Linked DNA regions of Homo sapiens: region 2 is linked to region 1. The links come from fine-mapping of genetic effects on gene expression. A gene starts in region 1. The other region holds a variant in brackets. All regions are shown on one strand. Distances are from middle to middle.

Region 1 (5,381 bases):
TAATGGTTAGAGTCCAACCTACACACTCTTCCCAGTGGGAATGGCTGCTCTATAAAGTTCTTTGTACGTGTTTTTTTTTTTTCCTAACATTCACTTGGTGCCAATAATTATATTTTGTCCAATCACTTTTTTTTTTTTTTAAAGAGATAGGGTCTCACTCTGTTGCTCAGGCTGGAGCACAGTGATGTGATCATAGCTCACGGTAACCTTGGGATCCTGAGCTCAAGCAGACCCCTCACCTCAGCCTCAGGGGCAGGTGGGACCATAGGTACTTCTGTGCCACCACACTCAGTTATTTTTTAAATTTCTTGTAGAGATAGGGTCTTGCTATGTTGCCCAGGCTGGTCTCGGAGCTTCCCACCTCGACTTCTGAAAGTACTGGGGTTACAGGTGTGAACCACTAAGTCTGGCCTGGAATATCTTGATCCATCCATTCCTTGATTCTAAACGTCTAGCAATTTACATGACATTTCACACCATGTTGCAGAGTTATATACTGCTTTGATTTGCTTTATGGTAGTCTCTAATTTCGTTGATCTTCCTCTTAAAAATGCCTTGTTTTAATATTTAGTATTACAGGACTGATAAGTTCAGTAATTTGATAAGCAACTTAGGGATAAGTAGTTAATTTCTGAGGTTTAAATTGCTGGTTTTAAAAAATTGTAAATTGGTGGCCTAGACAGATGCATTTTATCTTGGAGAATGAATGTATTCGTGACTGGAAGTAATGGCAGCTATAATTCGTTACGTTATTTTACAGTCACATCTCAGCTGCATAACCTATTTACTTTTTGCAGTGTTATCACTGATTCACAAGACAATTTTGCTTTTATCTGGGCACATGATTGCTTGTTTCTCCTTATCTTTTAGCTTCCCTTTATATATACTTTCCAACATTGGAGTGATTCAGAATATATGTGAGGAATGGGATGGTGATTTAGGAAAGGCGGGAAAATTATGGGCTAAATCATCTGATGAAAAATTCTGGCCCAGCGCAGTGGCTCACGCCTGTAATCCCAGCACTTTGGGAGGCCGAGACGGGCGGATCACAAAGTCAGGAGATCGAGACCATCCTGGCTAACACGGTGAAACCCCGTCTCTACTAAAAACACAAAAAATTAGTCGGGTGTGGTGGCAGGCACCTGTGGTCCCCAGCTACTCGGGAGGCTGAGGCAGGAGAATGGTGTGAACCCGGGAGGCGGGGCTTGCAGTGAGCTGAGATGGTGCCACTGCACTCCAGCCTGGGCGACAGTGTGAGACTCCGTTTCTTAAAAAAAAAAAAAAAAAAAAAATTCTGGCTAGTTATTAAATTCATTAAAAATATTTCTTCAGATTTTTACCCCAACAGTTCATAGGTGACCTTTTTTCAGTTTCCAGTATGAACTCTCAATATGGAATCTCAGTTTACATGACAATGGTATTTTACCCCATAGATACATCCTAGTAAAAATAAATTCGGAATACTCTTAACTGCATTGCCACATGAAGCAATAGGAGAGACTGTATCCTAAGCAGAATCCCTCTAATTCCTCTGGGTTGAGGTAGCTTGACCCCCCATAACCAAGATCAATTTTTTTTTTTTTTTTGAGATGGAGTCTCGCTCTGTCGCCCAGGCTGGAGTGCAGTGGCGTGATCTCGGCTCACTGCAAGCTCCGCCTCCCGGGTTCACGCCATTCTCCTGCCTCAGCCTCCCGAGTAGCTGGGACTACAGGCGCCCGCCACCACGCCCGGCTAATTTTTTGTATTTTTAGTAGAGACGGGGTTTCACCGTTATTAGCCAGGATGGTCTCGATCTCCTGACCTTATGATCCGCCCGCCTCGGCCTCCCAAAGTGCTGGGATTACAGGCGTGAGCCACCGCGCCTTGCAAATATCCTCACACTTTGCAGAGGCGGCAAGTGAACAGTGCTCATCTTGATAAAGGATTTTTAACACTGACACGTGCTTAGAACTACGAACAGTGGAAGGGTCTGAAATGGCAGCAATGTCGCCCTTTCACAGGTTTCTAGGGCGATAAGCACTGCAAGCTCGGCCAGCCAAAGTCCAGCGGTGGGGGAAAAAACGGCCAAGGCAGCAGCAGACATAATCAAACAGGGCCCGGGTCGGCGGCGGTGGCTCACGCCTGTAATCCCAGCACTTTGGGAGGCCGAGGCGGGCGGATCACCAGAAGTCGGGAGTTCGAGACCAGCCTGACCAAGACCCGTCTCTACTAAAAATAGAAAATTAGCCGGGCGTGGTGGCGCATGCCTGTAATCCAGCTACTCGGGAGGCTGAGGCATGAGAATCGCTTGAACCCGGAAGGCGGAGGTTGCGGTGAGTCGAGATCGCGCCATTGCACTCCAGCCTGGACAACCAGAGCGAAACTCCGTCTCAGGAGAAAAAAAAAAAAGTAGTAACGGGTCCGGCGGCAGCGCGCGGGCCGGGCGAGCGTCTCCCGGCAAACGCGGCGCCACAGCTGAGCCGACCTCCGGGGCCCGCGCCCTCCCCTCCCCGGGCACCACTAGGAGCGGCCAGCCCGGGCCTCGGCTCCGCGCGCGGGGAAACGAGCGCGGCGGTTAAAACCGTTACCACCCCCGAGTTTTGAACTGGTTCAAACTTGGCTTCCAGCACCCGCCCCGCCCCTCCCCCGCCCGGGAACTCTGCGGCGCCGGTTCCCGCCAAGAGCCGCCGGCGCTTCGTCCCGCCCTTCGGCCGGTTCCCGCCACCTATCCTCCCCGCCTCCCGTCCGCGGCGGGCTCCGGGCCCCCGCGATGTCTCCCGGTCCCCGCGTGCCTGCACACCGCCTTCCTGAGAGGCGCCGTGTGTTCAGCGAAAGAACAAAGAGACGGCGGCGGCGCTTCCACACGGCCAGTGGCGTCCCTTACAGCGAACCCCGCCGCCGCCCGCGCGCGCACGCGCTGCCAGTGCCCGCCCGCCCACGAGCCCTGAGCGCACTCTGCGTGGGGCTGGCTCGGCGCCTCCGAGCCCGGCGGGCCCTGTGATTGGACGGGCGCCCGCCTCGCGTCCCGCCAATCGGGGCGGCGCTTGATTGGGCTGGGGGGGCCAAATAAAAGCGATGGCGATTGGGCTGCCGCGTTTGGCGCTCGGTCCGGTCGCGTCCGACACCCGGTGGGACTCAGAAGGCAGTGGAGCCCCGGCGGCGGCGGCGGCGGCGCGCGGGGGCGACGCGCGGGAACAACGCGAGTCGGCGCGCGGGACGAAGGTAACGCGCCGCTGCGGGCGGCCCGGCCGGCGGGGCTCCGGGAGTGCGAACCGGGCGGCGGCGGCGGCGCCAGGACCTCCCCGCCACTGCTGTGCCGGTCCCGGGTATCGCCGAGCGGGGCTCACCGGGGCGCCGCGTTTGTAGGCGTGCGGGGGGTGGAGGGTGAGGGGAGAGCCCCCCTCCCCGGAAGGAGCTGTGAGCTTCGGGCTGGCCCGCGGGACCCTGCGAGTGAGGCAGCGCACACCCCTGGAGCTGCGGGGCGGGGGGCGTGTGGGGGGCTCCTTTCCCGGTGCTTGTCCTGGCCGGGGCGCCGGGGCCGGGGTCGGGGCGTTCCGGTGCCCGGTCCAGGGTGGCAGCTCGAGCCTCAAGTCTCCTTTGTGTGGCGCGGCCGCGGCGGGAGCGCCCGGGTGGGACGGGACAGACACAAGTTGGTGGGACCCAGCCGCCGAGTCCGCACTCAGACAAAGGACGGACTGTGTCTCCGGAGGGCTCGGCGCGAGGGGAAGGGGCATGACACCCGGGCCCGCCGGCGGGCGGGAGAGGGGCGTGGGGAGGCGCGGGCCGCTGCCGGGGTGGGCAGGGCTCGGCCCTCGCCTCGCGCACGCCCCCGGTCCCGGGCGCGCCGACCCCGGGCTGGGGCCGCGGCGCTCGCGGGACGACGTTCGCGGCGGGGAACTCGGAGTAGCTTCGCCTCTGACGTTTCCCCACGACGCACCCCGAAATCCCCCTGAGCTCCGGCGGTCGCGGGCTGCCCTCGCCGCCTGGTCTGGCTTTATGCTAAGTTTGAGGGAAGAGTCGAGCTGCTCTGCTCTCTATTGATTGTGTTTCTGGAGGGCGTCCTGTTGAATTCCCACTTCATTGTGTACATCCCCTTCCGTTCCCCCCAAAAATCTGTGCCACAGGGTTACTTTTTGAAAGCGGGAGGAATCGAGAAGCACGATCTTTTGGAAAACTTGGTGAACGCCTAGTGAGTTGCCACTTTCTAAAGAATCGTAATCCTTAAACATTACAAGCTGTTTTGGCCAACTTGTGTGATACATCTGAGAATGGCGACAGGTGCTAACGAAATCAACTGTCATTCAGCCAGATTATTCCCCAAATCCCGACGGGTTGAATGAGGATGAGGTGGTAGAAGTAGGTGATCAAAATAGAATGGCTATGACAAATGTGTGTTTAGATTATACGGTTAGCAGTTTCTTATTAATTGGTCTCGTTTTCTGTGAACAATAGCTTTGGTGATTCAGAAAAGACTGCATGGAGAAATGTTTGTTGCCTAAGAAATTTAACGTGTGCTGTCCACAGTTAAACTTCCTTTATCACACAGGATCTGTAACATTTAAATTCATTTGGAAATAAAAATGTGTCTTTGCTATTTACTTAAAGGCTTGCTTTTTAGGGTTCAAGCAAGTTATTATTAGTTTAATTTTGTGGCGTTTTGATGTCATCATAAAACAGCATTTAATAAACCTTTGAAAAACACGAATGCTGTCACAATTGAATGTAGTTTATACTTTTAGGGGTTTTGGAGTTTATTTTCTATTACTCTTCATAAGCATTAGCAACTAATTCATGTTTAGGAATACTGTACAAGTGTGTAATCCTAACTTGTTTATTTGTAATTTTATTTGCAGGAAAACAAGTATTTAAGATATATTTTAATTTTCTATTCATGGTCTCTAAAGTTAGGAATAGGTAGGATTCTAGTCATAGATATAAAGCGTCTTGTTCTCTCTTTTCGGAGGTGTGTTGGGTGATGTAATATTTAAGGTTTCCCGGAAACAGGAACACTGCATCTTAAATTCTCGTTTTTGTGGAAAGTGAATATATTCCAAGAAAACAAGTTAGAAAAACATAGGCGTTCTTCTGGTTGCACTGTCCTATATGATAAAGATCTAATGTGCATCTGCTAACTTAAGGTTTCATAAAAATGGAGACAAATAAATGCAATATAAATTTATTACATATATTTTGGAGAGTGTTGACACCACTGTACGGGCATTCCAGGTGCTGGTCTAAGTGTTGAGACATTATAACAAAAAAGTAACGTTTATATTAGTTACTATTAATTCTGTATTTAAAAAATCCTATTAATAATCTTGTCCATTATGAGATAAGGTAGTTATGCAGATTTTTGGCAGAAATTCGGATATTTTAGGATACATATGTGTGTGTGTGTGTGT
Region 2 (5,381 bases), 140 kb after region 1:
TCTGGGTAAATATACTTTTCTTAATTCTTTAAAATACAAAGGATGGTTTAAAACAAAAATTTATAATATCGTCTTGTGGGTTTAAAAACATATGTAGAGGTAATATAAAGGAGAGCGATACGAGTAGTAAATGGAACTATACAACCACAATTCCTCTACATTTTCTATGATGTCATACAATCTTAACTCTAAGTGGAATGTTAAGAAAAATGTGTATTATATCCTTAGAGCAATCTCTTTATTCCTTCTTCTCTTTCACACACACACACACACACACACACACACACACACACACACTGCAGAAACAACCAACAAATATATTAAAAAGGAACTATAAAAAAATTTCAAATAATCCTAAAGAAGGGTGGAAAGCAAGAACAAAGAAACTTTTTAAGGGGAGAAAAAAACAAAATGGTAGGCCTAAAATTAATCTATTAATAATTATAACAAATGTTAATGGGCTAAAACTACAATTAAAAGACAGAGATGGTCAGAAGGGGCAAAGCAGCAAGACCGCTCTATATGTTGACATGAGGGACACAATTTAAATATAAAAATACACATAAGTTGAAAGCAAATGGATGGAAAAAGATTATCATGCAAACATTAAGCATAGAAAGAGGTTAAAGAAGCTAATAACTATCAGGCAACAAATTACTACCAGGGATAAAAAGGGACACATTTCATAATAAATGTACTTAAAAGACATATTCGCAAATGTATTTTTGTCTAACAACAGAGTTTCAAAATATATGAAAAAAAATTTGTTTTTTGAGATGGAGTCTTGCTCTGTCACCTAGGCTGGAGTGCAGTGGTGCCATCTCGGCTCACTGAAACCTCCACCTCCCAGGTTCAAGCGATTCTCCTGCCTCAGCCTCCAGAGTAACTACAGGCGCCCACCACCATGACCGGCTAATTTTTGTATTTTTAGTAGAGACAGGGTTTCATCACGTTGGCCAGGCTGGTCTTGAACTCCTGGCATCAGGCGATCTGCCCGCCTTGGCCTCCGGCGATCTGCCCGCCTTGGCCTCCCAATGTGCTGGGATTACAGATGTGAGCCACCACACCTGGCTTAAAATATATGAAAATTTGACAGAATTAAAGGGTAAAGGAGACAATTTCACAATCATAGGATAAGATTCAACATTCCTCTCAGCAACTAGACCATAGGAAAAATATCAATCACAACTTGGATGATCTGTATGGGCAGTTGTAACATTCTACACCCAGTGGTATACTGGTAAATTGGCTCTCTGAGCAGGGAGAAAAGAAAAAAAGAAAAGCCCTGATTTGTAGCCTCCATAGATGTCTATTGTATAAGGTTCCCACCATGGCAGATGCAAGCTACCAACAGGACAATATCACACAGGGAGATGGGAGAGAGATGGGCACAATCATCTCCCGCAAGCTGATCTGATCCAGCTCCAGCACATCACCATCTACAGCCAACAGCTGCAGAACCCACATTCTTTTCAAGAGTACATGGCACATTCACCAAGATAGGCTATTTTCTGGGCCACTGAACACGTTTCAATACATTTAAAAGGACGGAAATTATACAGTGTGTTCTCTGATCAAAATGGAATTATAATTAGGAATTAGTAACAATAAGCTACCCGGGAAAATCCAATATTTCTAAACAATATCTTCCTATATAATTCAAAGGTCAAATAAAGTGTTTTGAATTAAATGGTAATGAAGATACAACATATCAAAATTTGCAGAATAAGGCTAAAAATCCTTAAAAGGAAATTTATACTTTCAAATACTTATATCAGAAAAGGTAGAAAGAGTTGGGCATGATGGCTGATGCCTGTAATCCCAGCACTTTGGGAGGCTGAGGGAGGTGGATCACTTGAGGTCAGGAGTTTGAGACTAGCCTGGCCAACATGGTCAAACACCCAGTCTCTACTAAAAATACAAAAATTAGCTGGGCGTGGTGGTGCATGTCTGTAATTCCAGCTACTCAGGAGGCTGAGGCAGGAGAATCGCTTGAACCCGGGAGGCAGAGACTGCAGTGAGCCAAGAACATGCACTGCACTCCAGCCTGGGCAACAGAGTGAGTGAGACTCCAACTCAAAAAAAAAAAAAAAAAACCAGAAAAGGTAGAAAGATTTAAGAATTATTAATTAAAATGGCAATACTCCCTGACATGGTTTGGCTGTGTCCCCACCCAAATAGCACCTTGAACTGTAATAATCCCCATCTGTCAAGGGCAAGGTCAGGTGGAGATAACCAAACCATGAAAGCAGTTTCCCCGATAGTGTTCTCGTGGTAGTGAATAAGTCTCATAGAATCTGATGGTTTTATAAATGGGAGTTTCCCTGCATAAGCTCTCTTGCCTACTGCCATGTAAGACATGACTTTGCTTCTCCTTTGCCTTCTACCATGATTGTGAGGCCTCCCCAGCCACGTGGAACTCTGAGTCCGTTAAACCTCTTTCCTTCATAAATTACCCAGTCTCGGGTATATCTTTATTAGCTGTATGAGAACAGACTAATATACTCCCCAAATTGATCCAAAGATTCAATGTAATCCCTATCAGAATCCCAGTTGGCTTCATTGTAGGAAGTTAACAAGCTGATTCCAAAATACATATAGAATTTCAAGAGACTCAAAAGAGCCAAAATAATCTACAAAAAGAACAACATTGGAGGACTCAAACATCACAATTTCTAAACTTACTACAAAATGACAGTAATAAACTCATGAATCTGTGGACCTGATTTTCAATAAGGGTGAACATCAAAACCACAATGAGATACTACTTCATTCCCACTAGGATGGCTAGAATCAAAAAGTCAGAAAATAACAAGTGTTGAGCCGGATGTGGTGGCTCATGCCCGCAATCCCAGCACTTTGGGGGGCTGAGGCAGGAGAATCACTTGAGGCCAGGAGCTCGAGACCAGCCTGGCCAACGTGATGAAACCCTGTCTCTACTACAAACACCAAAATTAGCTGGGCATGGTGATGCGCACCTGCGGTTCCAGCTACTCGGGAGGCTGAGGCAGGAGAATCACTTGAGGCCAGGAGCTCGAGACCAGCCTGGCCAACGTGATGAAACCCTGTCTCTACTACAAACACCAAAATTAGCTGGGCATGGTGATGCACACCTGCGGTTCCAGCTACTCGGGAGGCTGAGGCAGGAGAATCGCTTGAACCTAAGAGGAGGAGGTTGCAGTGAGCTGAGATCTCGCCACGCACTCCATCCTGAATTACAGCAAGACTCTGTCTCAAAATAAGTAA[GTAAA/A]TAACTAAATAAATAAATACAACACAACACAACAAGTGTTGGCCAGAATGTGGAGAAACTGGAACCCTCATACACTGCTGGTGGGAAAGTAATATAATGCAGCCACTTTGGAAAATAATTTGGCAGTTCTGCAAATGGTTAAACACACAGTTACCATCTGACCCAGAAATAACACTTGTAGGCATCTAAGAAAAATGAAAACATATGTCTACATAGAAACCTGTACACAAATATTTACAGCAGCACTATTCGTAATAGTAAAAAGTTGGAAATAACCCAACTGTCCATCACCTGATGAATGGATAAACAAAATGTGGTATATCCACAGAATGGAATCTTATTTTACCATAAAAATGAAGTACTGACATATGCTACAACATGGATGAAGTTAGAAAACATTATACTAAATGGAAGAAAGCCAGTCACAAAAGACCACATGTATTAGTCGGCTTAGGCTGCCATAACAAAATACCAGACAAGACGGCTTAAACAACAGGAATTTATTTTCTCACAGTTCTGGAGACTAGAGGTCCGAGCTCAAGGTACTGTCAGGGTTGGTTTCTGGTGAGGGCTCTCTTCCAGGGTTGCAGACGGCCACCTTCTCACTGTGTCCTCACATGGCCTTTCCTCTGTGTATGTGGAGAGAGAGCTCTCTGGTGTCTCTTCCTCTTCTTATAAGGACACCAATCCTATCAGGGTAAGGCCCCACCCTCACGATTTTATTTAACCTTAATTATTCCCCCAAATAGCCTTACCTCCAAATACCATCCAAATATACTGGGGGTTAGGGCTTCAAGATATGAATGGAGGAGAGGCACAATTAAGTCCATAACACCACATATCATATAGTTACATGTATACAAAATGTTCAGAATAGGTGAATTTATAGAGACAAAGTACATTAGTAGAAGGTAGGGGTAAGAAGGAAGTGACAACTAAAGGGCACAGGGTTTCTTTTTGAGATGATGAAAATCTTCTAAAATTGAATGTGACAGTTGAACATTATCTGTGAATATACCAGAAACTATTGAAACGTACACTTTAAATGAGTGCATTGTATGCTATGTGAATTAGATCTCAGAGCCATTAAGGCTGGGCACAATGGCTCACACCTGTAATCCCAGCTCTATGGGAGGCCGAGGTAGGTGGATTACTGGAGGTCAGGAGTTCAAGACCAGCCTGGCCAACATGGTGAAATCCTGTCTCTGTTAAAAATACAAAAAAATTAGCTAGGCGTGGTGGCGTGCGTCTGTAATCCCAGCTACTCAGGAGGCTGAGGCAGGAGAATCACTTGAACCTGCGAGGTGGAGATTGCAGTAAGCCAAGGTTGCGCCATTGCACTCCGGCCTGGGCAAAAACAGCAAAACTGTCTCAAAAAAAAAAAAAGCCATTAAAAAAATTCAATACCATTCCAATCAATCAACTTTTGGGGTAGACATTGACAAGAAGTTGACAGTCCATTGAGGAAAAGTTTTTTTCAACAAATGACACTGGAATAATTGGATATCCACACAGGGGAAATTTAACCTTAAGCCTTACTGTACACCATATACAAAAGTTAACTCCAGGTGGATCACAGGTCTAAAAGTAAATGCCCAAACCATAAAGTCTTATGAGGAAAACACAAAATATATTTGAGATCTAGGCAAAGGTTTCTTATGTCACAGAGGCAATAACTGCAAAAATAAAATAAAACCAATAAATTAGGTTTCCCCAAAGTAAACATTTGCTCACCCAAAGACACCATTAAGAAAATGATTAGCAAGCCTCAGACTTGAAGAAAATATTAGCAAAATATATCTGACAAAACACTGGTATCCTTGACATATAAAGAACTAAAACTAACAAAAAGCAAAATATCCCCAAAATGGAAAAAACAGGAGGCGAAAGACTTGGACACTTTACAAAAGATGACATACGAATGGTCAACGAGCATATAAAAAGGTGCTCAACGGACACGAAGTTTACATGGCAGCCCGAGAGGTGCCCCCGGTTTAGGGCACCTTCGCCTAAAGAACAGGATCAACTGTGCTTTGAATCCAGGCTGAGTCAGCAGAGGCAGGAGTGAAAGCAGATCTTATATAGCTCTGATGACACACAGTCTTAGCTTCACAGTATTTTTATCTCAGCT

Direction of the effects. Alleles are on the strand shown, and positions count from the first base shown. SD is a standard deviation of normalised expression in the study named.
For the expression in monocytes after interferon gamma of the gene that starts at base 3,074 in region 1, allele A in region 2 goes with a lower level than allele GTAAA (moderate effect, 0.56 SD a copy in Fairfax 2014).

Evidence for each region. PIP is the estimated chance that this variant, and not a neighbour inherited with it, causes the effect.
Region 2: its variant is the best candidate, but not a certain one, in a credible set for the expression of EZH2 in monocytes after interferon gamma (Fairfax 2014, PIP 0.51).

Annotation. Positions count from the first base shown.
Region 1 is chr7:148,881,984-148,887,364 of GRCh38, reverse strand. EZH2 (enhancer of zeste 2 polycomb repressive complex 2 subunit) reads left to right here and starts at 3,074. Exons shown (of 20, transcript NM_004456.5): 1 at 3,074-3,201. It overlaps LOC124901767 (a long non-coding RNA gene), which reads right to left and starts at 2,176. Exons shown (of 2, transcript XR_007060579.1): 1 at 1,882-2,176; 2 at 1-1,008. RefSeq lists silencers at 2,441-2,670, 2,791-3,160, 3,321-3,910 and an enhancer at 3,129-3,820.
Region 2 is chr7:148,739,314-148,744,694 of GRCh38, reverse strand. The region is part of intron 2 of CUL1 (cullin 1); the gene reads right to left. Among named protein-coding and RNA genes, the nearest start is that of CUL1, 43 kb to the right of the region's middle. The variant GTAAA/A (reference allele first, on the strand shown) is at 3,247.